7 linked regions of the Homo sapiens genome follow. The protein of the gene in region 1 purifies or fractionates together with the protein of each later gene. This does not show direct contact. Each region holds a gene or a part of one and is shown on either strand. Other genes may lie near its edges.

The links.
Region 2: the proteins of RND1 (region 1) and SLC7A11 purify together in Homo sapiens (affinity purification with mass spectrometry, with the first as the bait; one large-scale study listed by BioGRID). This does not show direct contact.
Region 3: the proteins of RND1 (region 1) and DHCR7 purify together in Homo sapiens (affinity purification with mass spectrometry, with the first as the bait; one large-scale study listed by BioGRID). This does not show direct contact.
Region 4: the proteins of RND1 (region 1) and PLEKHG5 purify together in Homo sapiens (affinity purification with western blotting, with the first as the bait; 2 studies listed by BioGRID). This does not show direct contact.
Region 5: the proteins of RND1 (region 1) and KIDINS220 purify together in Homo sapiens (affinity purification with mass spectrometry, with the first as the bait; one large-scale study listed by BioGRID). This does not show direct contact.
Region 6: the proteins of RND1 (region 1) and CD44 purify together in Homo sapiens (affinity purification with mass spectrometry, with the first as the bait; one large-scale study listed by BioGRID). This does not show direct contact.
Region 7: the proteins of RND1 (region 1) and RASAL2 purify together in Homo sapiens (affinity purification with mass spectrometry, with the first as the bait; one large-scale study listed by BioGRID). This does not show direct contact.

What each region holds. Positions count from the first base shown.
Region 1 is NC_000012.12:48,856,645-48,859,757, reverse strand, and holds the end of RND1 (rho-related GTP-binding protein Rho6 precursor), read left to right. Parts: intron 1-1,516; coding exon 1,517-1,762; 3' UTR 1,763-2,613; downstream 2,614-3,113. UniProt on the Homo sapiens protein: Lacks intrinsic GTPase activity. Has a low affinity for GDP, and constitutively binds GTP. Controls rearrangements of the actin cytoskeleton. Induces the Rac-dependent neuritic process formation in part by disruption of the cortical actin filaments.
Region 2 is NC_000004.12:138,166,474-138,169,349, forward strand, and holds part of SLC7A11 (cystine/glutamate transporter), read right to left. Parts: 3' UTR 1-2,876. UniProt on the Homo sapiens protein: Heterodimer with SLC3A2, that functions as an antiporter by mediating the exchange of extracellular anionic L-cystine and intracellular L-glutamate across the cellular plasma membrane.
Region 3 is NC_000011.10:71,445,594-71,449,652, forward strand, and holds the start of DHCR7 (7-dehydrocholesterol reductase), read right to left. Parts: upstream 2,801-4,059; 5' UTR 2,697-2,800; exon of another isoform or gene 2,684-2,696; intron 2,142-2,683; 5' UTR 2,017-2,141; intron 1-2,016. UniProt on the Homo sapiens protein: Oxidoreductase that catalyzes the last step of the cholesterol synthesis pathway, which transforms cholesta-5,7-dien-3beta-ol (7-dehydrocholesterol,7-DHC) into cholesterol by reducing the C7-C8 double bond of its sterol core.
Region 4 is NC_000001.11:6,478,168-6,481,667, reverse strand, and holds part of PLEKHG5 (pleckstrin homology domain-containing family G member 5), read left to right. Parts: intron 1-3,500. UniProt on the Homo sapiens protein: Functions as a guanine exchange factor (GEF) for RAB26 and thus regulates autophagy of synaptic vesicles in axon terminal of motoneurons. Involved in the control of neuronal cell differentiation.
Region 5 is NC_000002.12:8,831,114-8,834,613, reverse strand, and holds part of KIDINS220 (kinase D-interacting substrate of 220 kDa), read left to right. Parts: intron 1-3,500. UniProt on the Homo sapiens protein: Promotes a prolonged MAP-kinase signaling by neurotrophins through activation of a Rap1-dependent mechanism. Provides a docking site for the CRKL-C3G complex, resulting in Rap1-dependent sustained ERK activation.
Region 6 is NC_000011.10:35,208,671-35,212,170, reverse strand, and holds part of CD44 (CD44 antigen isoform 1 precursor), read right to left. Parts: intron 2,554-3,500; exon of another isoform or gene 2,207-2,553; coding exon 2,117-2,206; exon of another isoform or gene 1,397-2,116; intron 926-1,396; coding exon 722-925; intron 1-721. UniProt on the Homo sapiens protein: Cell-surface receptor that plays a role in cell-cell interactions, cell adhesion and migration, helping them to sense and respond to changes in the tissue microenvironment.
Region 7 is NC_000001.11:178,454,104-178,457,603, reverse strand, and holds part of RASAL2 (ras GTPase-activating protein nGAP), read right to left. Parts: intron 3,158-3,500; coding exon 2,956-3,157; intron 905-2,955; coding exon of another isoform or gene 884-904; coding exon 705-883; intron 1-704. UniProt on the Homo sapiens protein: Inhibitory regulator of the Ras-cyclic AMP pathway.

The sequences.
Region 1 (3,113 bases):
GGCCCCACGCCTAGCTAATCTTTTAACATTTTTTGTAGAGACAAGGTCTCAGTATGTTTCCGGGGTTGTTCTTGAACTCCTGACATCAAGTGATTCTCCTACCTTGGCCTCCCAAAGTGCTGGGATTACAGTTGTGAGTCACCACACCTGGCCTGGAATCTGCATTTTTTATAAGACCCCTGGATAATTTCTTATGTGCATGAGAGCATAGGGTTGGGGGACTGAGTTTCGCTCTTGTCACCCAGGCTGGAGTGCAGTGGTGCGATCTCAGCTCACTGCAACCTCTGCCTCCCGGGTTCAAGAGATTCTCCTGCCTCAGCCTCCTGCGTAGCTGGGATTACAGGTGCCTGCCAACACGCCCAGCTAATTTTTGTTATTTTTAGTAGAGATGGGGTTTCACCATGTTGGCCAGGCTGGTCTTGAACTCCTGACCTCAGGTGATCCACCTGCCTTGGCCTCCACTGCACCTGACCTGGGGAGCTCTTAAGAATACTAATACCGGCCAGGCGCGGTGGCTCACGCCTGTAATCCCAGCACTTTGGGAGGCTGAGGCGGGCAGATCACAAGGTCAGGAGATCAAGACCATCCTGGCTAACATGGTGAAACACCATCTCTACTAAAAATACAAAAAATTAGCCAGGCGTGTTGGCGGGTGCCTGTAGTCCCAGCTACTCGGGAGGCTGAGGCAGGAGAATGGTGTGAACCCGGGAGGCAGAGCTTGCAGTGAGCCGAGATCGCGCCACTGCACTCCAGCCTGGGCAACAGAGCGAGACTGTTTCAAAAAAAAAAAAAAAAGAAAAGAAAGAAAAAGAAGAATACTAATGCCTTGGCTCTATACCCAGAATTTTTTTTTCCTTTTCCTTTTTTTTTTTTTTTTTTTTCCAGAGACAGGGTCTTACTCTGTCACCCAGAATGAAGTGCAGTGGTGTGATCCTAGCTCACTACAGTGCAGAACTCCTGGGCTCAAGGGATCCTCTCTAGTATTTGAGACTATAGTTGTGTGCCCACTTCCAGTGAATTTTTAAACATTTTTTAAAAGTGTTTATTATTATTTTATTATCTTTATTTTTGAGATTTATTTTTGTAATTCCAAAGCGCTGGGATTATGGGTGTAAGCCACCGCGCCCGGCCACCTAGGCTGGTCTTGAACTCCTGGCCTCCTCAAGTGATCCTCCCATCACAGCCTCCTGAGTAGCTGGGATTAGAGGCACTAGCCACTGCCCCAGCTATCCCCAGAAATTCTAATTTAGTTTGGCATCAATATAGTTTTAAGAGTATTCCAGATGATTTATAATGTGCAGTCAGGCATCGTCTTAAGAAAAAGAGGCATCATCAGACAGGGTGTATGCCAAAAAAAAAAAAAAAAAAGAAAAGATAATCGAATAATCTGCAGAGGGTGGTGTTTGGAGACTGGCAGCTGGGTCCCCTCTGGAGTGGCCCTGGGGAGTGACGCACAGAGGCAGCGTCCCAGAGCCATTTTGGCCCACTGCATTAATGCCCTCACCCCCTCCTGCAGGGTTGTGCAATAGCAAAGCAGCTGGGTGCAGAAATCTACCTGGAAGGCTCAGCTTTCACCTCAGAAAAGAGCATCCACAGCATCTTTCGGACGGCATCCATGCTGTGTCTGAACAAGCCTAGCCCACTGCCCCAGAAGAGCCCTGTCCGAAGCCTCTCCAAACGACTGCTCCACCTCCCCAGTCGCTCTGAACTCATCTCTTCTACCTTCAAGAAGGAAAAGGCCAAAAGCTGTTCCATTATGTGAAGTGGAAATTGGAGGGGGGAGACAACCCCCTACTTCCTCCCTTGGGGTGCAGAGGCACGGGGAGAGGGAGGATGAGACAATTTAGGACACTGGACATGAGTTTTTCAGATGGCCACGGTGAGGGCTTGGAAGGAGACAGGAATGGGGCGAGGAAGGAGCCAGGCCCGGCATGAGGACCTGACGCTGAGAGAGAACCATCATACCCCAAGCCAGGCACTAGATTTTGGAGGGGGCGACTACCCCAGTGCCCCCCCCGCTCCAGAGGAAGGAAAGCTGTGGGGGACGGGGGGCATGCTGGCCTCATGGGCTTGGGGGCCTACAGCAGCCTCACCTTCAGCTTCATGCCTCTTCCACACAGCGTTTCCATGCAGGTCAGGGGATGGGAGGGGTCCCTGAGCCCTTCCCTTCCCCTCTAAGGAGGCAGCAACGGAGAGTGGGGAAGTGGAGCGGCAGCTCCCTTGGGGGCTTAGCCCAGGTGCTTCGTAACTGCAATCGGAAGTGCAGGAGCTGGTCAGAGCCAATGAGAAGGAAACCTCATCTTTGCATAGCCCATGCCTCATGGAGAGGTGACATCATACATTCACATGCTTCTCACCTAAGTCCCCAGGGTCCAAGGGAGAAGCCCCAGACCCCCTTCTCTTGCAGAGTGTGGGGGTGGTGGTGCTGCAGGGGCAGGGCTGGGTGGGGGTCACCAGACTTTTTCTGCCCTTAGGGTAGTACAGCTGGCATTTGTTTTATAGACTCTTGTCTTTGGAATTGGGGGGAGGGGGGGAGTGTTTCAATCTGTTATATGTTCTGTGTTTAATGAAGAAAACCTATTTATTAATGAAAAATATAATACATATAAAGAATTTGGCTCCGTATTTTTTTCTGTTTTCTTTAGTTGTTACAATTGGTATTTTTTTTTTTTGGTCTTTTTTTTTTTTCCTTTTTGTGGAGAACAGGGTCTCGCTATATTGCTCAGGCAGGTCTCAAACTCCTGGGCTCAAGCTATCCTCACATCTCTGCCTCCCTAAGAGCTGGGATTACAGGCATGAGCCACCGTGCTTGAGCCCTTTGGTTGATGATAATGAGAGAAAAGCTGTCCTGGGACCCTTTCTGTGGGTTGCAGAGGGGCTGCCTCCACCATTCCCCAGCTCCTCCAAGAAGGAGCTTCTCTCTTCCCCCATCCCCCTGCCCTAGCCCCACCCAAGACCTACTAAACCAAGGAAGGGCTCCTTAGCCCGAGAGCAGGGGTGCAGGGGTTCTCAACCCTGGAACTATTGACATTTTGGACTGGATAATGCTTTGTTGTGAGGGACTGTCCTATGCAGCCCAAGATGTTTAGCAGTGTCCCTGATCTGGTGGATGC
Region 2 (2,876 bases), on another chromosome or scaffold:
GAGGTAATAAGGACTTAGCAAGCAGTTCTCCTAACCAATACATTAATTCACTTGAAAGTCATACTTTTAAAAAAAATCAGTAGTGTATATGTTGAGGAAAAAAAGCATGTTCACTCTGGAACAAAGTTGGCCCTCTATGGCTCTCAGATGCCTAATGCTCTACAGTTTTGTGAGAGAATTGTTAACTGTAAAGCTGTAAAGGCGGTTATTGGTACTATAAATGTACACTTGATTCAAGTACGCTGAAACACACACATGTAACAGCTATTAGGACACTGTAACCGTCCTCTGTGTATTTTAAGGCCAATAGTAACAGAGAGGAGGGAAAAAAATAACTACCAAGAAAATAAAACTAATGGGTAGATTCACACTAAGAAAATCTAGGTAATTATATAAATTCATTGTTATGAGGTTGTAGAAAGGACAGTTATCTCACGACATATGGAAAATTGGTGAATTTCCTGTGAGACTATGATTTATGCTTTTGTGAATGTATACCTGATCTAAAATTAGACAAAACATTTATTTTTAGACACCAACTAATTGGAAAATATAAGGAAAGAAATAATTATCTCCCAAAATTGACTATTAAAAAATAATTTTTAAGTACAGTACTAATAAACTAAGGATGACCTAGAGAGCATACCTTTAGCTATTATTTAAAAATCTTTTTTTTTTTTTTTTTTTTTTTTTGAGATGAAGTCTCGCGCTCTTGTCCCCTAGGCTGGAGTGCAATGATGCGATCTTGGCTAACTGCAGCTTCTGCCCCTTGGGTTCAAGTGATTCTCCTGCCTCAGCCTCCCGAGTAGCTGGGATTACAGGCGCCTGCCACCACGCCCGGCTAATTTTTATATTTTTAGTTGAGACAGGGTTTCACCATGTTGGCCAGGCTGATCTCGAACTCCTGACCTCAGGTGATTCGCCCGCCTCAGCCTCCCAAAGTGCTGGGATTACAGGCATGAGCCACCGTGCCGGACCTATTTAAAAATCTTTTTGAAGTACAGTACTAATAAACTAAGGACTACCTAGAGATCACACTTTTAGATATTATCTATTTTAACATAGATTAAAAATACTGTTTATATGAAAATTAAGCTTAAATACACGTATAGGTAATAATTATTTTGCCCATATACAAGTAATGTAAACAGAGGCTATCAAGGTGACCCATTATCTACTCTAATTTATATCCACTATGAGCTTCTTCCCAGTTGTTATACAATGCCATATTTTAATTCCTGACTGAATGGTTAGGAAAGCAAAATGTAACTCTGTAAACTTGATCAGCACTAATGTACAACATATTATGGAGGGTAAAGTGAAGCAAGAATATATTCAAGTAAAATAAAATGTCTTTCATGGGCATTCAAATCCCACATCTCTCTATATTTCTTTCCCAACTAAGAGCTATAATTAAAATCCCATTTATTATTTTTCTATAGTTCAGAATCAACGTATAAAATATGATGAAAGTGAAACTATCTCCCTATATATCACATCATATATATTGTGAGAAAGTCACTTGTTATATATGGATATTTCAATTAACTCATAAATTTTTAAAAACATATCCTCCATACTTATTTCTAACAGAAAAAAATAACAGGAATTATTTTACTTTACTCACATGGACAATGCAGATTTTGTGGGGGTAGAAGTGTACACAACTTTGCTGGTCTTCTTCAACAAAATTAGTACAGAATTCCTAATACAAAGTTAGGTTCAGGACCTCGAATGGAACATGTCTAAGTGAGAGGCACTGAAGCTTAGGTTTCATTAGCTTCCTGCGAGATCCACCTATGCACAGCAAACAACTAATTTTTAATATTTCTCTGACTATATTGCATAACATTAAAATATTGTTACCTTCAGTCCATACTATCTTTCATTTCCTGATTCTCTGGCCTTCGGTTTTTTATCTTTTCATACCTTATACCTCAATTACAAAAGATCAACTTTAACAAAGGTCAGAGTTGCTCCCTTTCTTAGCAGTATATTCATCTGCAAATCAAGATAAAATAATGATTTTCCTGTAGACTGATTACAGTTCATGAGGAATTCTGTTATGTAATTATACTCTTGTTAACCCTCTATTGATATGTCAAATTGTAATTGGGGAAACAATTTTACCAGACACATAAGACGAACAGGAAATCTGTTTCAACGTGAATATCTTAGTGTTGGAGAAACCGTCATGCATTGCTAACGTAACCTAATAAGCTGTCCAAATTTTGTGTCCACAGGGCTGAGGAGCTACAGTCTAAATGCATACGCATGTTGGGAACCGAAGTCAGCCATCTTCCCTAGGACAAATCTTTACTCTTCTAAAGAAGGACAAGAATAAGGTCTACTTTCAGCTAACCATTTATAAGGTTCAGTTTTCATTGGATCAAAGGAATATAATCTAATACTTTTTAAATGGGGTCAAAACAGTATTATAAGGAAAATATTTACTGCAAATATTTATAATTGTGTAAGGAGAATCATTCTTTTTAAAATCAAGTTGTGTTTTAGCTTTAGAATCTTTTAAAATCACAAGTATTTGAGAATCCATCCCCACAAAAATTAAAAAATACTATATTAGTTATTTTAAACAGTATTCATTACTTTTACTGTTTATGTTATAATAAACTTATGTATATAAACATTTGAATATGCATGGTACAAAGTACAAGTACAGAACATGTAGTAAGTAGTATGTGCATGTATGTGTGTGTGTGCATATCGTATAAAAATATGAGAAAAATTTTACTTATATAAAAACATATATATAAATAAGTGTTCAGGAGAGTTTTTGAGAATCTGCTTTACATACTGCAATTTTGAGTGAAAATTATGGATATTAATTTCCTGATTAAAGGAACTGTGTCTTCTCA
Region 3 (4,059 bases), on another chromosome or scaffold:
GAATTGTGTGTCCTCTTCATTGTTCTACTACCAGGGCCTAGAACAGTGGCCCATGTAGGACCATCAATAATCACCCTTCAAAAAAAAGGGGAAGAGAACACAGAATGTCTCTAGGTACCCACAGCTGCTCTACATGGTTATAATTTGGGGGAAGCAGTGACATCCCCACTTCCAGAACAAGTTCATAACTGTGAAGCTTTAAAATATCTGAGATTTTTTAAAAGATGCTCTTGAAAGCTTTTAGAGAAAAAACAGGAGTAAAAATCACAGTAGGCTTAGATTTCTCAACAGCAAGCTGGATTCTAGAAGACAATGATGAAAAACTTCAAAATTTTGAGGAAAACTTTTTGCAACCTAGAATTCTACTCCTATGTGAACTATTACTCAAGGACAACAACATAGGATCCAGGAAACTGGAGACCCAAGAGAGCTGCTGAAGCCATGTCCACAAAAGGGCAGGGGCAAGTCCCAAGAGGACAGCTATGCAGCAGGACTAACCAGAAACCAGTCCACATTGGTACAAGATGAATGGCTAGGAAAGAGAGGAAATGAAAATGATGAATTTTGTTGCATCTGAATGTGTAGGAAAATTATTGATATATGTGACAGCTCGGTTAGAGCATCCAGAAAAAAATGAATGAGAGATGCATAGAAACCTTACCAAATGAAAAAAAAAAAAAAAAAAAAAGGAAGGCAACTGTTAACTCCAGGAAAAATAAAAAGTCATATAAGGAAGGAAAAAAAGAAACCAAGCCATTATTATAGGACCTTACTTGGCTCAACAGTGAATAATGGTAATTTTGTCATAACAATGTATACTCTGACTATTTATTGACTATTGTATGCACAGAAGGGAATTTGCAAAGTTAGGGGTACTAAAAGGAAATTACTTAGAAACAAGTAGGTACAAACAACAACACAAAAGTAGCTGAAAGAATGAAAAGTGTTTGCTGCTGGCAAGCAAGACTGTCGGATGTGGGATGTGGTAGAGAGTATTTCTTCTGAAGCCTTTTAACACTGATTTTTAAAAAAATGTGTGCATGAATTACTTTAATAAAAATTCACACACATTTAAAAAATTTCAACGATGAAAGACATTTTCCTTATGCAGTGTGAGAACTTCAGTACCCGCACTTCATTCAATTTACACAAGTTAGTTTATGCAGTTCCTATGATGCACAAAACAAGACGAAGAGTTCTTGATAGGAAGAGACCGTGTCTCTCTCCGGCCCCAAATACTGAATACAGAGCCTGGCGAGTGCCAGTCACTCTCCTTATATCTGTAAAATCAAAGTGGATGAAAGAAAACTACTTCTGAGAAAAGCTGACACGCTAGTGAGTCTGATCTCAAGATCACAGCCACCTGGACAAGCTGGCTTGCTTTAGACAGTTCCTCTCCCCCAGGCTCTCATCAAGGTAAGATACAAGCTTAGTTTCTTCCCAGCCAAAACTTACCAGCTCAGTGCCCCCACTCCCTCCGATCCCTAGTTCCCACACTGACTGGTGTTAATCCAGACCACCCACATGCACACTTGCCTTACAGGAAGGCTAAGTAGAATGGGGTGGCATTCGTCTTGCCCCAAGCCATGGATAAGCTACAAGGGGACAATGCCTGGTACCAACATTATCAATTATGTAAAACACTGGGAAATTGCAAAAGGGTCAGGGGATGTGTAACCTCAGAACTAAAGTGTGAAAAAGCCACTGGGAGAATGTTGTCAAAAGGGATTAAAACAAGACCAAAGAAGTACTTTTAGCTTATTACAGAGTTCATTCACCCAGGAGTCAGCTCTTTAGCCACAAGCATTGAGTTGTGCAATAAACATCTAAGTAACATCCTTCCCAATAGACGGCTGGGAACAGACAAAGGGGAGGTGCCCTGGTATGTTGTATTTTACTCATAAGAGGCACAGACAGTCGTTGGCACTCGAGAGCTGGTGGACCAGTCTGTCTGTACTTTCAACGCTGTGAAGCCATAGCCTGCGCCCACGATCCAGGGCACTGAGATACACTTACCTCCAGCCTCTTGCCAAATAGTTTCACAGCAGAAGGGAACTTTTCCTTCTTGAACCGGCCCCTTAAAAGTTTCTAGACACCTGTGCTCCAAATGCCTGCTTGATCCTTCTCAACCGGCTAAAGTCCTGCAAGGAACACAAAAATGAATAAGACCGCAGGCAGCTGACATTTCAGGAGAGGGCAGAAGCTCAAGGCCCACAGTAGGAGTCAAGCAAGAGGCAGAAGGTCCAGTGCTCAGGGCTTCAACAGCCGCATGTCAGGGAGGACGGCGGACAAGCCAGTCCCATCGCAAAGCTGCTGTGCCTGGCTCAGCACTGACAAAGAGGGAGGCGAACAACAGGTGGGGCAGGAGAAAGAGCCGCCGCGGAGCGCGGCATGGGGCCAGGAGCCGACCCCGGAGCCAGGCAGCCTTCGCCCGGGGAAGCTCCAGACAGCGCGGGGACAGAGCATCCCTCAGACGCCGGCTCGTGGGGGAGGGGGACTATCCACGCCTCCGCCCCGCCTCCCCGGAGCCCCAGCGGCCCCTCGCCTGTGAGCTGGACCCTCTCCCCACCTGCGCGCACGCCCCCTACCCCTGACCCCACCCTCGCCCTGTGAGTGGGCACCTGCTCACCTGGGCAAGCGCCCCCCACTGCGCACACCTTCCCCTGGCCTCACCTGCGCACACCTTGGCCACTCACCTGCGCACACCTCGGCCCCTCACCTGCGCCCACCTTCCCCTGGCCTCGCTTGCGCGCGCTGCTCCACGCCGCCTACCCTCTAGCCAGGGGTCGGAGTCACCCGCAGGGCAGGGGCGCCCGCCCCCGGATGATGTCAGCGATTGCCTGCCAATCGGAGGCGGACCCTGCACGCCCGGCGGCTCCGCGCCCCGTGATTGGTCGAGGAGCCTGAGCTGACTCCGGGCCCACCGCGCCCGCCATTCGGCAGCGGCCGGACTCGAGATTGACGGCCCAGGCCCCGCCCTGCCGCCCCACCGGCCCGCCCGGGCCCTAGTGGGTGGGCGCAGCCTCTGGCGCTTCTTCGGGATCCCAGCTGACCAGCTGGGGGTGGGGCGTGGCGGAGTGGCCACGTGGGCCGCGCGGAGAACGCGCCAGGCTCATCACCTGGATCATCGTGCCTCAGTTTCCCCCTCGGCAAATGGGGCTTCAGCGGCTCGCGACGCACATTGATGGAGCGTATGTCCAGGCGCCGGTGCACCGCAAGGAGCAAAACAGACACAGTTCTTGGTCCTAGGGCTCACGTCCCGGGGCGAAGAGGATCCTCCATAAACGATCAGGTAAACACATGGGTGTCAGGGAAGGCTCGCCGCTGGGAGACCGCCAAAGTGACCCGAGATGGAGTCTGGGTGGCCTGCTTATTAGGGGGGCACACCTGTGCGAGGACGGGAGGGGAGGGAGCAGCAGGACTGGGCAAAGGGAGAAGCTGAGCCACAGTGCGAGCCGGACGCACGGGCCACGTTGCGAGGGCATGACCTGGGGCGAGGCAGCCCTGGAGGAGGGGGCAGCTGAAGGTGTCTGCTGACCCCACACCCAACAGCTCGGGTAACAGGCCTTACTGTCAGAGCGATCTGGTTGCCACGTCTCTGTGGCCCTCAGAGAGACATCATGTTTTCTTTTTTCCCTGCACCTTTTTGTTTTGAAAAATGTTCAGCATACAAACAAGTTGAACGTAAAGTGAGCACGCAGATTCCTAGGTTCAGCAGGGGTGAGCAGCTGGCCACGTTTCATTTCTCTCCCTCTGTGTTTATATATGTGTATTTTTCTTTTTTCCTCCCCACTCAGCCCCCACCATTAGCTGCAGATACCGTGATACCCCCCTCCCAAATACTTCGGTATCCAACTCCTTAAGAACAAGAACCTCCTATATTACCAAAATACAATGACCACATCAGTTCAATGCTGTTATCTATTTTCCATCTCCAGTTTCCCGCGGTTGTCCCAATAATGCCCTTTACAGCCCTTTTGTTATTGTTGTTTTGTTTTGCTTTGTTAAGACGGGGGTCTCTGTCACACAGGCTGGAGTGTAGTGGCACGATCACAGCTC
Region 4 (3,500 bases), on another chromosome or scaffold:
TGGTCTTGATCTCCTGACCTTGTGATCCGCCTGCCTCAGCCTCCCAAAGTGCTGGGGATTACAGGCATGAGCCACCGCGCCTGGCCTTTTTATTTACTTATATATTTATTTATTTATTTATTTATTTATTTATTTATTTATTTTGAGACGGAGTTTTGCCCCAGGCTGGAGTGCGATGGCACAATCTCGGCTCACTGCAACCTCTGCCTCCCGTATTCAAGCGATTCTCCTGCTTCAGCCTCCCGCGTAGCTGGGATTACAGGCATGCGCCACCATGCCCAGCTAATTTTGTATTTTTAGTAGAGACAGGGTTTCTTCCATGTTGGTCAGGCTGGTCTCGAACTCCCAACCTCAGGTGACCCGCCCGCCTCGGCCTCCCAAAGTGCTGGGATTACAGGCATAGCCACTGCTCCTGGCCCCTTTTGGCTTTTATTCAGAGTGAGATGGGAACCCTTGGAGGGTTTTGAGTAGATACAGTGGGACTCCTCTTTGAACAGGGCCCACTCTAGCTGCACATGGACAACATATTGTGGGGGATGGGGGTAGCAGTGAGGCCAGTTTTGAGGCCATTGTTGTCATCTAGCTAAAAGGTGGCTGGGCAGTGGCACGCTTATGAGCTGTGGCTGGGTTGAGGCCACAGATACTAAAGGTGGAGCCAGCGGGATTTTCGGGCTGACCAGATGGGGGCATAACAGAGAATGTCAAGAGTGACCCCAAGCTGATATGGTGGCTCACACCTGTAATCCCAGCACTAATTCCAGCACTTTGGGAGGCTGAGGCGGGCGGATCAGTTGAGCCCAGGAGTTCGAGACCAGGCTGTGCAACATGGCGAAATCCTATCTCTACTAAAAATTAGCTGGGTATGGTGGTACATGCCTGTAGTCCCAGCTACTTGGGACGGTGAGGCAGGAGAATCACTTGAACCCAGGAGGTAGAGGTTGCAGTGAGCCGAGATTGCGGCACTGCACTCCAGATTGGGTGACAGAGTGAGACCCTGTCTCAAAAAAAAAAAGGAAATCCCCCACCTTGCAGCCATCAGAAGAATCAAATAATTGATTTAGGTTAAAATCATCTATGTATGCTAAAGCTCTTAGGACCGCAAGCTCACATCACCATGCCTGGCTAATTTTTTTTTTTTTGGAGACAAAGTCTCGCTCTGTCACTCAGGCTGGAGTGCAGTGGTGTGATCTCGGCTCACTGCAACCTCTGCCCCCGGTTCAAGCAATTCTCCTGCCTCAGCCTCCTGAGTAGCTGGGACTACAGGCGTACGCTGCCACGACTGGCTAATTTTTTTGTATTTTAGTAGAGACGGGGTTTCACCGTGTTGCCCAGGCTGCTATCGAACTCCTGAGCTCAGGCAATCCACCCGCCTCGGCCTCCCAAAGTGCTAGGATTACAGGCATGAGCCACCGTGCCTGGCAATTTTTTATATTTTTAGTAGAGATGGGGTTTTGTCATGTTGGCCAGGCTGGTCTTGAACTCCTGACCTCAACTGATTGAGTGAGATTACTGGGGAACAAGACATCTCAAAGTGCCATGCCACAGATTACTTATTAATTATAGGGGAAAAAGGGACTCTACAAGGTACAGAGGTCCCCAGAGGATCCAGCATTACAGGCAAATAGCAAGAACACACAGCTCTGTGGTGTCCCCGCCTGAACGCTCAGTTTGAAACTTTCTGAGGACCACCAGGGAGATCCACATTGAGGAGCTCTGTGCGAGGCTGCTGGCTCGAAGACTTCCAAAATGTCAAGGTCAGCCAGGCACAGTGGCTCATGCCTATAATCCCAGCTCTTTGGGAGGTCAAGGCGGGCAGATTGCTTGAGCCCAGGAGTTCAAGACTAGCCTGGGCAACATAGTGAGATCTGTCACTACTAAAAATAAAAAAGTTAGTTGGGCGTAGTGGCATGCACCTAGTATTCCCAGCTACTAAGGAGGCTAAGGCAGGAGGATTACTTGAGTCCGGGAGGTTGAGGTTGCAGTGAGCTGATCATGCCATACTACTCCAGCCTGGGCTACAGAGCGAGACCCTGTCTTGAAGAAAAAAAAAAAGTCAATGTAATAAAAGACCACAAAAAACAAGGCTGGGCACGGTGGCTCACGCGTGTAATCCCAGCACTTTGGGAGGCCGAGGTGGGCGGATCACGAGGTCAGGAGATCGAGACCATCCTGGCTAACACGGTGAAACCCCATCTCTACCAAAAATACAAAAAATTAGCCGGGCGTGGTGGCGGGCGCCTGTAGTCCCAGCTACTCAGGAGGCTGAGGCAGGAGAATGGTGTGAACCGAGGAGGCGGAGCTTGCAGTGAGTCGAGATCGCGCCACTGCACTCCAGCCTGGGCGACAGAGCGAGACTCCGTCTCAAAAAAAAAAAAAAAAAAAAAAGGATAAACAGACATAACCAAATGCCACGTGTGAAACTTGATTAGTTCCTATATGAGGAAGTATATCTGTAAGAACGTTATTTAGACACTTGGGAAAATGTCAATATAGACTATATATCAAGGTTCAGTTTCCCAAGTGCGACAATTCTATGGGGTTTTGTAGGAAAACTGTCTTTGTTCTTAGGCAGCAGCATGATTTCTGCCCCAGGGGAGGGGGGTGCCGAGAAGAGAATGGGAGAGAAGCAGATGTGGTAGATATCAACTTGGGGAGTCCAGAGGGCATGTGGATGTCATGTGCTATTCTTATAATTTTTGGTAGGTTTGAAATATTTTAAAACAAGTCTGGGCGCGGTGGCTCACGCCTGTAATCCCAGCACTTTGGGAGGCCGAGGCAGGCGGATCACCTGAGACCAGGAGTTCAATACCAACCTGGCCAACATGGTGAAACTCCGTCTCTACTAAAAATACAAAAATTAGTCGGGCGTGGTGGATTGTGCCTGTAATCTCAGCTACTTGGGAGGCTGAGGCAGGAGAATCACTTGAACCCGGGAGGCGGAGGATGCAGTGAGCTGAGATCGTGCCATTGCACTCCAGCCTGGGCAACAGAGCGAGACCCCTTCTCAGAAAAATTTAAAAAAATAAAAAGAAAAGAAATATTTTAAAACAAAACTTGGGAAAAATAAAGAGAGTGGGAGGAGAGAACTAGGAAGTCGTGAATACTGATACCTGTTTACAGAGTTTAGCTGTGAAGGGAAAGAAAGAAAGTCAGCCGTAGCTGGAGGGTGAGGTGAGGCCTCTGTAAAATGGAGAAATAAGGCTGGGCGTGGCAGCTCATGCCTGTAATGCCAGCATTTTGGGAGACCAAGGTGGGCGGATCACTTGAGGCCAGGAGTTTGAGACCAGCCTGGGCAACATGGTGAAACCCCGTCTCTACAAAAAATACAAACACTCGCCTATGGTGGTGTGTGCTTCTAGTCCAAGCTACTCGGGAGGCTGAGGCTCGAGGATCACGTGAGTCTGGGAGGTCAAGGCTGCAGTGAGCCATGATTGTGCCACTGCACTCCCTGTCTCAAAGAAAGAAAGAAAAAAAAAGATGGAGAAGCCGGGCGCGGTGGC
Region 5 (3,500 bases), on another chromosome or scaffold:
TAGTCTTTATTCTCATTGAGCTACATTTGTTTGGCTAGGGGAAGCAGACCAAAAACAAAGTATGTGGTATGTGGAGTGATGCTAGGTGTTATAAAGAAGACCTTTAAAGTAGGGCTGTGGAAGGGGGATATAGTAGAGGGGGAGAGGGCTGTTTTATACACGTATAAATGGTATACACCATTTATACACGGTGGTCAGAGAAGCTCTGATCAGGTGACGTATGTACAGAAAGTCACTGTGGCCTGAGTAGAGTCAAGGAGAAGGAGCAGCAAGAGTTGAGCTTAGGGAGGTGGAGAAGGGGTGGAATAGATCAAGCAAGGCCTTGGCCCTGGTAGGGATCTGGGATTTTGAGTGAGAGGACAACCGTTGGGATGTTTTGAGCACAGAATGGTTGTAAGAAGACACGATTCAGGAGGACCACTTAGGCCTCTGTGTGGAGGGGGCAAGCGCTGCCACCCAGGCCCAGGAATGTCAGCACCAGGGTAGGCTCTGGGGACTGCACAGGGGTGATTGTTGCTGGAGACTTAAGTGGGAGGAGGAGAAGAGGGGCTGGAGATAGAGAACCATGGGAGGGGCCACATTCAGGAACTTACTGTGTCGTATCTGGAGGATAAGAAATAAGTAAGCCTTGGGCAGCATGGCACTATTGTTGCTTTCATGCACTGTGTCTGTAACCGGAGAAAAGTTATAGGGTGCGTCTATTAACCGATTGGCCTTTTGGTGAAAGCATTTTGAATACATTTAGAGATTTTGCCTATTAAATTGGCAAGTTCTAAAAATGGACTTACTACAACATAAATTTTTTGTTCTGACATTGCTGTTGGCTACATCTGCCATTTTCAAAACGGGTGGCAAGACATTAATTTTTTTGCTAATTGTGCAAAAGAATGTATAGCCTTATATTCCCATTAGAGAGAAAGTGCTGTGGACATTAGATTCAACTGATGTCCATTTATTCAAGAAATATAGTGTCTTGTATGGGCCAGCTATTAAGCTAAGTGTTGGGTATTTGGTATAGAACGAAAGAAAATAATTCATTCCTTTTAAAAGCTTATATCCTAGTGGGAGAGACAGCTATTAATCAGGTAAATATGTCCCATTCCAGCAGGTGTAGCTAAAAAAAAAAAAAAAAAAGACAAATTTAAAAAACATAAATATGTAAATTACAAGTTTAGTAAAGTGTTATGAAGGAATAAAAAAGATTCCATAATAGAGAACAATCCAGGTTATGAGAATCAACCAAGAAAGGGTGGTTAAGAAATGATCATATTCTGTTATTATGTAAAACAGCTAATATTTATTGGCTTCATATGGGTTAGGTATTATTTTAATCCCATTGCATGTAATTGTGCAGTTATTTGAAGATGGGGAAACTCAGACACTGAGGTGAAGAAACTACCCCAGGGGACAGGGAGTGATAAAGAGAGGCTGGTTAATAAGTACAGACATACAGTTAGGTAGAAGGAGTAAGCTGTAGTGTTCAGCAGCATGGTACTATGCTTAACAGTTTATTGTGTATTTTATTTTTTATGGTATATTTTAAAGTAGCTAGAAGATAAGATTTGAGATGTTCCCAGCACCAAGAAATGAGAAAAGTTTGAGGTGATGGATATCCTAAATACTCTGATTTGATCATCACACATCCTATGCATGTAATCCAAATATTACACATACCCCATAAACATGTACAATTATTATGTATTAGTTAAAAAAATTAAGGAAAAAAAAAAGAAACTAGCCTGGGATGATATAATGGTCAGTAGTAAAGTCAGGAGTCAAACCAAGGTAGTCTGGCTCTAGGGTCCATACTTTTGACCACTAGACAGCTTCGTTTTAAGCCGAAAGGGCTTTTGGAAGTGAACGTTGAACTGAAATGTGAAAGATGAGAAGCTGTAGTTTTCCTCCTGTGATGAAACATTTTTTTTTCTATTGAAAATGAACGTAGACTTAATACATCAAGTAAAACAATATAGCACAAAGACGCGTGAAGGCAAAGCTAATCATCTCCTCCTTTTAGTCCTACATGGTAAGATAACGAATTTTACAGCCAGGTGTGTGTCCTTCCACACTTTTCTTTTTGTTCATGTGTACACACTGGATAGATACATATATGGGGGTCTTATTTATTTTATCAAGTAGAATTATACTACACACGTGCTCTTAAACATGACAGCGTGTCATTGGTTTTACTATTGTGTGTATCAACAGATGTGGATTTAATGTTCTAATTTTATTTTGTAATTTCTAGGCACTTATATATGTGCTTACAAACATCTTATGACATTTAATAATCAATTATTCAGTGAAATTTATTAAACACTGTCAGTGCCCTCTAGTCAAAGACTGCCAGGAACATACCTCTAGTTGAACAAAGTTGGTCTTATTAACTCCCTGCAATGAAGGAGAATGCCTGTCCTAGGGAACGTTGGGGGTCTCTGTAACAGGTTGTTAGAAAGGACTTAGAAGATTCGAGATGATGTTAGGTGATTCGGGGAAGAGTTCAAGGAAGCAAAGCTTTGCTCAGTCTCGGGTGCTTCAGGAATAAGGAGGAGTGGGAATTCTGCAATTGGATATTTAAAATCTTAACGAAAAGGCAAGAGGTATGGAGTAAGGCTAAAGCTGTAATTGATAAAGAAGCAGCAATGCTTCATATTAGCCACGATAGGAAGATGTTTGGGCATTTTGTGGTTTGGGTGATGTTCATGTTTTTGTCTATGTTCAGATATGATTCCAGAGTAGTCTTATTTTTGTCTTCATATCCTGGTGACAGAGTGACCTTGTTTGATGTTGGCATTCTTTGAAATTGTTGCATTTATGTTAGAACACCAAGTCTGGCTGTGTGTGCCGGGTCAGTTCCCGACAGTCAGGGGCTGCTTTTCTCTCTCACCTCCTGTTGTGTAGGCATTGTGCTAGATATAAAGCAGATCCTGCTGCAAGAACTTCTAGTCTAAGGGAGATGTGGAGAGAGTGAGTAAAATGGAGAGGAGAGTTGAGTGTGATGTGAGCAGTCTACAACTAGATGTATACACAGGTGTGGAGGAGCCCAGGGCCTGGCCCAGCTTGGGGTAAGCAGCCAGTCAATGAAGGCTTCCAGAAGATCTGTTAGAGCCATGTTCTTAAGGATGGGTAGGAGCTGTTCAGGCATATATACGTGGAGAATGGACTTTCTAAGCAGAGGGGGCATTAAGTGCAAAGGTCTGGAAAGAACAAAGTGTGGGGCAGTGAAGGAGCTGCAAGTAGATCAGTCTGGCTGGAGCTGGAGGTGTAGATGTGACTATGTAGAGGGTGGGAGGGATGGGGCTGAGGAGGGGAGAAAGATAAGGCTGGAATGGTAAGATGGGGCCAGATTGTGAAGAATCTGCATGCCCTCATCATAATCAAGAATTGAACTTACTGAGTTTTCACTCTGCTCAGTGGAGAGCAAAGCTTTCCGTAGGAATTGTGTATTTGCATCTTTACAATGGCTTTAAAAGCCTTAGAAGGCGTAAGTTCCTTGAATA
Region 6 (3,500 bases), on another chromosome or scaffold:
TGGAGAAGCAAAGAAAAGCAGAAGCAGAGATGACTACTTATTTGAGAAAAAAAAAGACTTATTCTAGGTCCGTGTCAAACTTCATTGAATAAATTATCTTCGTTCCTCTCTTCACTATTACAATAAGAGAAGTGGTCCCTATTCATTAATACTAGATTAAATCATGAACATTTTAAGTGTGCATCAGAACTAGAAGAGGTTTATCCATCACCAAAAGTAAAACTGATCAATCTATTACCAAAACAAGATAATAATTTCAGAGCAAAGATACTAGTATATAGAAATTATTCACCTGTAGGATAAAACCTTACAAAATAAGTAGAGTATATTAGTCGAATTAAACGGAATTGCTAAAATTCGACTACTTTCACCTGCAAAAATATCAGTTTCATGTGGTTCAACTTCATATATCACAAGATAAGACAAAGAAAGCAATTCCATCATAACAGCCAACTTGTACACACAACACACACACACACACACACACACACACACATGCAAACACAGACAAATGGAAAAAACACTGGCAAAAGGAAGCATTCTTTTATCTAAAATATACCCAAGTTTATTTGCACTAGAATTGATAACCAATAATGAAAGATATTTCCATATCACAAACTAGTCCAATCCCAGACTACACAGAAAATGTCCTCTGTAATATGAAACTATATATTGTTTCTCTATATAGAGAAAGCAAACTAGATAATAAATGCCAAATTACCTGATAAGGAACGATTGACATTAGAGTTGGAATCTCCAACAGTAACTGCAGTAACTCCAAAGGACCCAGTCTTAGCTGAGGTCACTGGGATGAAGGTCCTGCTTTCCTTCGTGTGTGGGTAATGAGAGGTATAACCTTCCAGTAAAGTAGTTGAGCCTTCAGAATGATTTGGGTCTCTTCTTCCACCTGTGACATCATTCCTATCTGTGTGGAGGTGGAATCAGTGATGAACCCGTATTTGTAAGATCACCACCCACCATGTGCTTGTCTCCAGAACACACAATTGCTGCAAAAGCTTTCCACTTGTTATCCATAAATAGGGAGAAATAGAGTGAAGTTTGTCATACTATTGAACAGAATAAATATTTTGCAATAGACACTACTTGGACATCACTCAACAGAAGAGATTTTGGTGATCTTAATACCCAGAATTGGCATTTGTTGCAACATCTGCTTGGGTTATTAGGTAAGGCTATGTCACTACAACTGTGATCTTGAAGTCAGCTGAGGTACTAGATAATCTTGAGTTCTTTCTCAATTGGATTCATCTTTGATGTAGTGGAGGAAACATATCATTGGATTGAAAGATAAAATTTTGCTGCCTGCAATTAAAATAGCAAATGCATGGTTTCAAAGGCCTGAGGCTACTAATTTAATTATTCTTTTCTTTTCCAGAAGGGACTGCTTTTTAGTCATCAGCACCATGGAGGTCCAGAGGACAAAAGGCAAAACAATATTATTGTGAGGAATGTAAAGTGATATAATCAGACATTTACGCCAATTATAAATCACACTGCAAAAGAACTGAAATCATAGCAAACAGTCTATTGGACCACAGCGCAATCAAATTTGAAATCAAGACTAAGAAACTCACTCAAAACCATACAATTACATGGAAATTAAATAACCTGCTCCTGAATGACTTCTGGGTAAATAATGAAATTAATGCAGAAATCAAGAAGTTCTTTGAAACTAATAAGAACAAAGATACAACATATCAGAATCTCTGGGACACAGCTAAGGCAGTAGTAAGAGGGAAATTTATAGCACTAAATTTAAACGCCCACATAAAAAAGTTAGAAAGATCTCAAGTTAACAAAAATAAATAAATAAAATAAATCATATATAAGCAATCCATTATTGTTAAAACAAATCACTAACTCTAGAGTGAAAGAAACCCAACTTTTAAGATGAAGAAATGTAGTTTGCACTTAATGTACGAAGAGGTATATAAAACAGAAAAATCAGAGAACCACCACCAGACGCACCTTTTGATTAAAAGTAACAGTGTAACGGCAGCTAATGGATGCACCTCCACCAAAGACACTGCAAAAGTACCCATAATTGATTGATTCTTATCAATAGCTGAAGCCAACTAGGTTTTATAATCCTTACTGCTTGATGTCAGAGTAGAAGTTGTTGGATGGTCTTTATCTTCTTCCAAGCCTTCATGTGATGTAGAGAAGCTCTGAGAATTACTCTGCTCTGTTTCAATGAGGAATGAATCCAGTGTTAATTTGAAGCTACGGTACAAATCCTGTTATCTGCTAGCAAGGAAAATCTAGCTAGAGTAGAGTCAGATGGATAGGTGCATAGGAAGACCAAGGTTTGTGCACACAATTCTCCTCTGATTGATAGAAATATACAGAAGAATTCTATTTTGCCCCTATTTGGTTCTGAAGACCCTTTATTTCTCAGTATAATCATCAAAGGTAAAGTGGCAAGGTGAAGACTGAGCCAAAACTTTGCCTATCCTGGATTGTCCAGGCTCAATTGCAGCATTGCTCCCAGTCACTCCAGAAAACCAGAGAACACAGAGACATGGAAAAAAGAATATTTGAATCCCAATGCTCCTATCAGTAACCAAAAGCACCTAACTGTGTGTCAAGAAATGTGACGGCAGGGAAAATGAACACTATGATAGCCTGTAGTCTAGTTGTAACCACAAAAGAAAAAGAAGCCTATCTAGAATAGCCTACTCAAGTAACACAGATCAAATTTATACAAGGAAATACTTAGCTACCTTGTAAAGGTCATTAAATTAAAGTTACCATTTTACTCCATTATTAAGTTATTTCTTAATTTCACCTGTGCATTGGGATTTTCATCACTGCACCAAGGAAACGCTTGCCTGGGCAAACACAGGGCCCTCAGTGACATATATCAACTGGAGGTTGACCCATTGCCCATATCTAAAATCACTTGGACTGTTTCAAGTTTATTTCTTTTGTGTTCTTTTAAGAAAGGTACTGACCTGAGTTGCAGGTGCAAAAACTTCATAAAGCACACCCATAAGCCATGCCCACCACCGAATAAATATTACAACCAGGAGAAAGACAGTCACTAAATCCCAAACCCAATGTCAGAACAAAAGCCAACAGTGACATAAAACGGAAATATAAGTCCTTCTTTGGCAAGGACCATTCATAGGCTTATTTGCATCTCCTTTGATGCTTAACGCTGTGCTATTTACATTGCTGACCATCAATACATGCTTGCTGATTTTTTTCCTTTGCCTAAAGGGCTCATATGAAGGACTCTGCCCATTATGTGTGGCAAGCAGTAAAATGGGACCTTCTTAATTCTAGATTTCTTTTGTATTCCTCAAAGAAATTATGAACGACTTTAGGCTGATCTCTAGGACATCCCTGCACATAGAGTAGAAATTAAGGCTACTAGAATTTGAACATTTCTTAGTGATAGAAAGAGATACTAGCAATGTTTTGTTGTTGTTGTTGTTCCAGGGATCCCGCCACCTTTGTTGATTGTCAATAACATG
Region 7 (3,500 bases), on another chromosome or scaffold:
CTCCTCCGAAGGTTCTTATGTGGATACGTACATTTCTTTGGAAACTCAGATTTTATCTAATTAGGGAATTATTACAATGCTTAGAATAAAATCCAGCATTTTTACTTTTTCCCCAAAGGTACAGAATAACACTGTAGATACCAACCCATCACTGTCTTCAGTTTTAACCAGGATTCCAATAATTTCCTAGTTAGGTTTTAAACCTTCCCCAAATATTCCAATTCATACTTACTTGTCTAAACCTTCAAGAGAAGAAGTTCTAAGCACACAACTGAAAGGTCCCTGCAAAAGGCACAAGTCTTGCCAATCCCTAAAACAGTCTAAGCATCGACATTGTATCTACCTGTCCAGTTGACATAGCCAGCTATAAAATGGTTTTAACCGAGGTTCTCCAAGATTTTGAATGCTATAACGTACAGAAACATGAATTTCATAAAGCCTTTAGTCTTCCACTAAGCAAGACAGAAATTTTAAAAATATGCTTGTGGAATATATTGTAACTCTCTATACTACCATTCTAGAAAATAAGTCATCCCAGATCTTGTGCATTATTATGACAAATAATTGGACTGCTCTCAGGTCAGATGAGTCTTCAGTTGCTCATGATTTTAAACTTGTAAATTCAACAAATAGGTTGAATATACTTCTGCTAAATCTAAACATTATGTTTCTCCGAGATAGTGGTCAAATTCTCTCTTTCATACCTGTCAGTGGGGTCTTCAAATATTTTCTGCAGCCCAGAGGAGAGGCTTCCACTGACATTTGGACTGGAGTTATGTTCAGTGAAGCGTCTCAGTTGCTGTTGTATTGGCGTAGGATTAGTCAATGACTTGGTAATATCAGCAAGAACACGAGGGAGAGGCCCCAATTTTGCCACGGTCGCCTGTAGGAAGGAATTTTCACCCTAATTGGATAATAAGCATTGCGACATCCACCACAGATTGTTTTTGGCACAACGATGGCCATTGATGGAGGGGTGTAGGTTGGAGGGAAGGGTAAGTGTTTGCATATGGGAGTGGCAGGTTCATAATGCATTGTTATGGAGCAGCAGAACCATGGCGTCGAGATGAATGGAGGAGGCGAAACAAGGTGCGGCAGACATCGAGGAAAGAAAGGAAATCGAAATCAGGATTATGCAAGTAAAAATTAAAAGACATGCTCAAAACTACCAAACTAATGCCATTCCAACTAAAATAGGCATGCGAAGCAAACTAAATCTTTGGGAGGCTAGTAGATCAAGGTGGGGGAGGGTGGAGGCAGAACCAAATTCCTTCTAACCAAAAGAACTTCAAGATCAGAGGATCAACTAGTATGATAAACTTTCAAAGAAAAGGGATCATGTGAGAAAAGAAATGCATGCCAACATATAAGAAGGTGCTCATTCAGGAATCCAGAGTACTGCAGGGCACACAGATGATACTGCCATCCACTATCCCAGTCAATCTTGGGAACCCTGACCCACTGCCAACTGAGTTTCCATCAGTAAGACAATTTTTATTGTTAATTTAACAGCAAAATCAGGTAAACTTCCTCTATGAGATATGTCTAGATGTATTCCTGGTTCCCAGGACCAAACACAGATTAAAAAGGAGAAAGTGTGTTTACATAGCAAAGCCCGTTAAAAAGACTTTGATCCTGAATAAACCAGGCCCATTTCACAGGAAAACTGAATCTGCATTCCACTGAGATGCAGTTATTCAACAAAGACGAACTCTTTAATACTTGCTTTATCCATTTCAATCATTTTTTTATTTAGGGAATTCTTATTCTCATGGGGTCTTAGGGGTCCCCTTCAACTGTCAGTCAGTTTGGCATAGCTGCCTTTGGGTCTTTGCCTTCTCAACAATCAACAGACTCTTCTACCCTACTCAAACAGGGATAGATGCCACCAAGGCCTTTACTTGCTCAATAATGTTGGGCTACGATTCACATGAAAAGGGTTTATCTTTGGCATAGCTGCAACTTAAAAATCTAGCTAGCATTTCTAAAAGTGAAGAAAAGGTCCTCGAGAATAAGGAACAGTTTATTGTTTTACAAATATTTTAAGCACTGGAGGACACATTACCACATATGTTTCCTCAGCAAAGTGGTCTTTGTTAATAGGTTTTATTCCCCTTCAAATTTTACTGATATAGCATTTTTATTGATAGGAAAATAGAGGAAAATAAGTAGATCATTATCATAGAAAAATGACTGTCTTTTGAAGTTATTCTAACATACCACCACACATATTTATAAAGTGCCTGTAGCAAACAAAAACATCAATAAATAATTATTGTAATAAGCCTAGCCAACGTCTTTTAGACTATTTTTTACTACCAAATCTATTCCTTTTTGTTAAATTCCAGAAGGAAGAAAATGATTGGCATGGTGTATATTTACTTATTAATACGGTATATAATAAAATTCTTAGCAAACGATTAAAAATAATTGCTTTCTGTATTCTTAATTCACATCTGTAAAGAAAGAAAACAATGACTGTTAGCACTAATAATTATATGAAACTCTATGACTTGTATAGTAAAAAAATTTGTTTCATGGGTAGTTACTTAAAACATGATAAACCTAGTATTTTCTTAGCTAAATCTATACTTTTATTAGAAATTACTATATGAGGTTTCATCTTATCCTATTAGACATGCATAAGGCTGTATATACCAATATATTAGTTTCTAGTCAAGTTTTCAGATATGCACTCTGTATATATAAATTTAGAGAAATATACTCCATTAATTCAGATAATTATTAAAAACATATATTAATAATGTCATGGTTTTCTAGAGTTTCATGGTTGTCGATCTCATATTTTACTCAGAAATGATGACCATTTACTCTCAGATTTCTAGGGTAAACAGTTGCTTTCAATTAGCAGAAAGAGTGAGTGCTATCACTCTATAGTTACTTTCCAGAATTCAGGTACATTAAAGTTCTCTATCTTCCACCAACCTACTTTACCTTATCAAGTTGGGAAACTACTTCCCACAGTAAGGAATGCAAAACTGAAAGCTCTCGGCCCAGATCAATGTAACCATCAAAGCCTGGGGTGTTTGAGATGGTGTCTGGATTAGAGATCTCCAAAAGAAAGCGCTTCATTCCACCCCATTCATGTTCTAAAAAATCATTCATGAATGCCATGTATTCCTCTTTGTTACCAAACCTGAAGTAGAGGATGAGAAAATGAGAAAGAACATATTCAAGAGAGATATGATCATTTTGATTTGACATTACACAGAACTATTACTTTTTTTTATTTTGTGGAGGGAATGACTAATTTTGTTTATTATCTATAAGTGATAAATGTTATAACATACTTTCTTAATATCACTTTAATATTCTAATGCTTTGAGAATAGCTTTCTATTCTCTCTAAAGGGTAAAGCCAAAACTCCTTTTTTTTTTTTTTTTTTTAGTTCTGGGATTTAAATTTCTCTGCAATATAGCCCTCACTTACCTACCAAAAGCTCACCAGTACAAACCTTCAATACTGCTAGCTTCTACAAA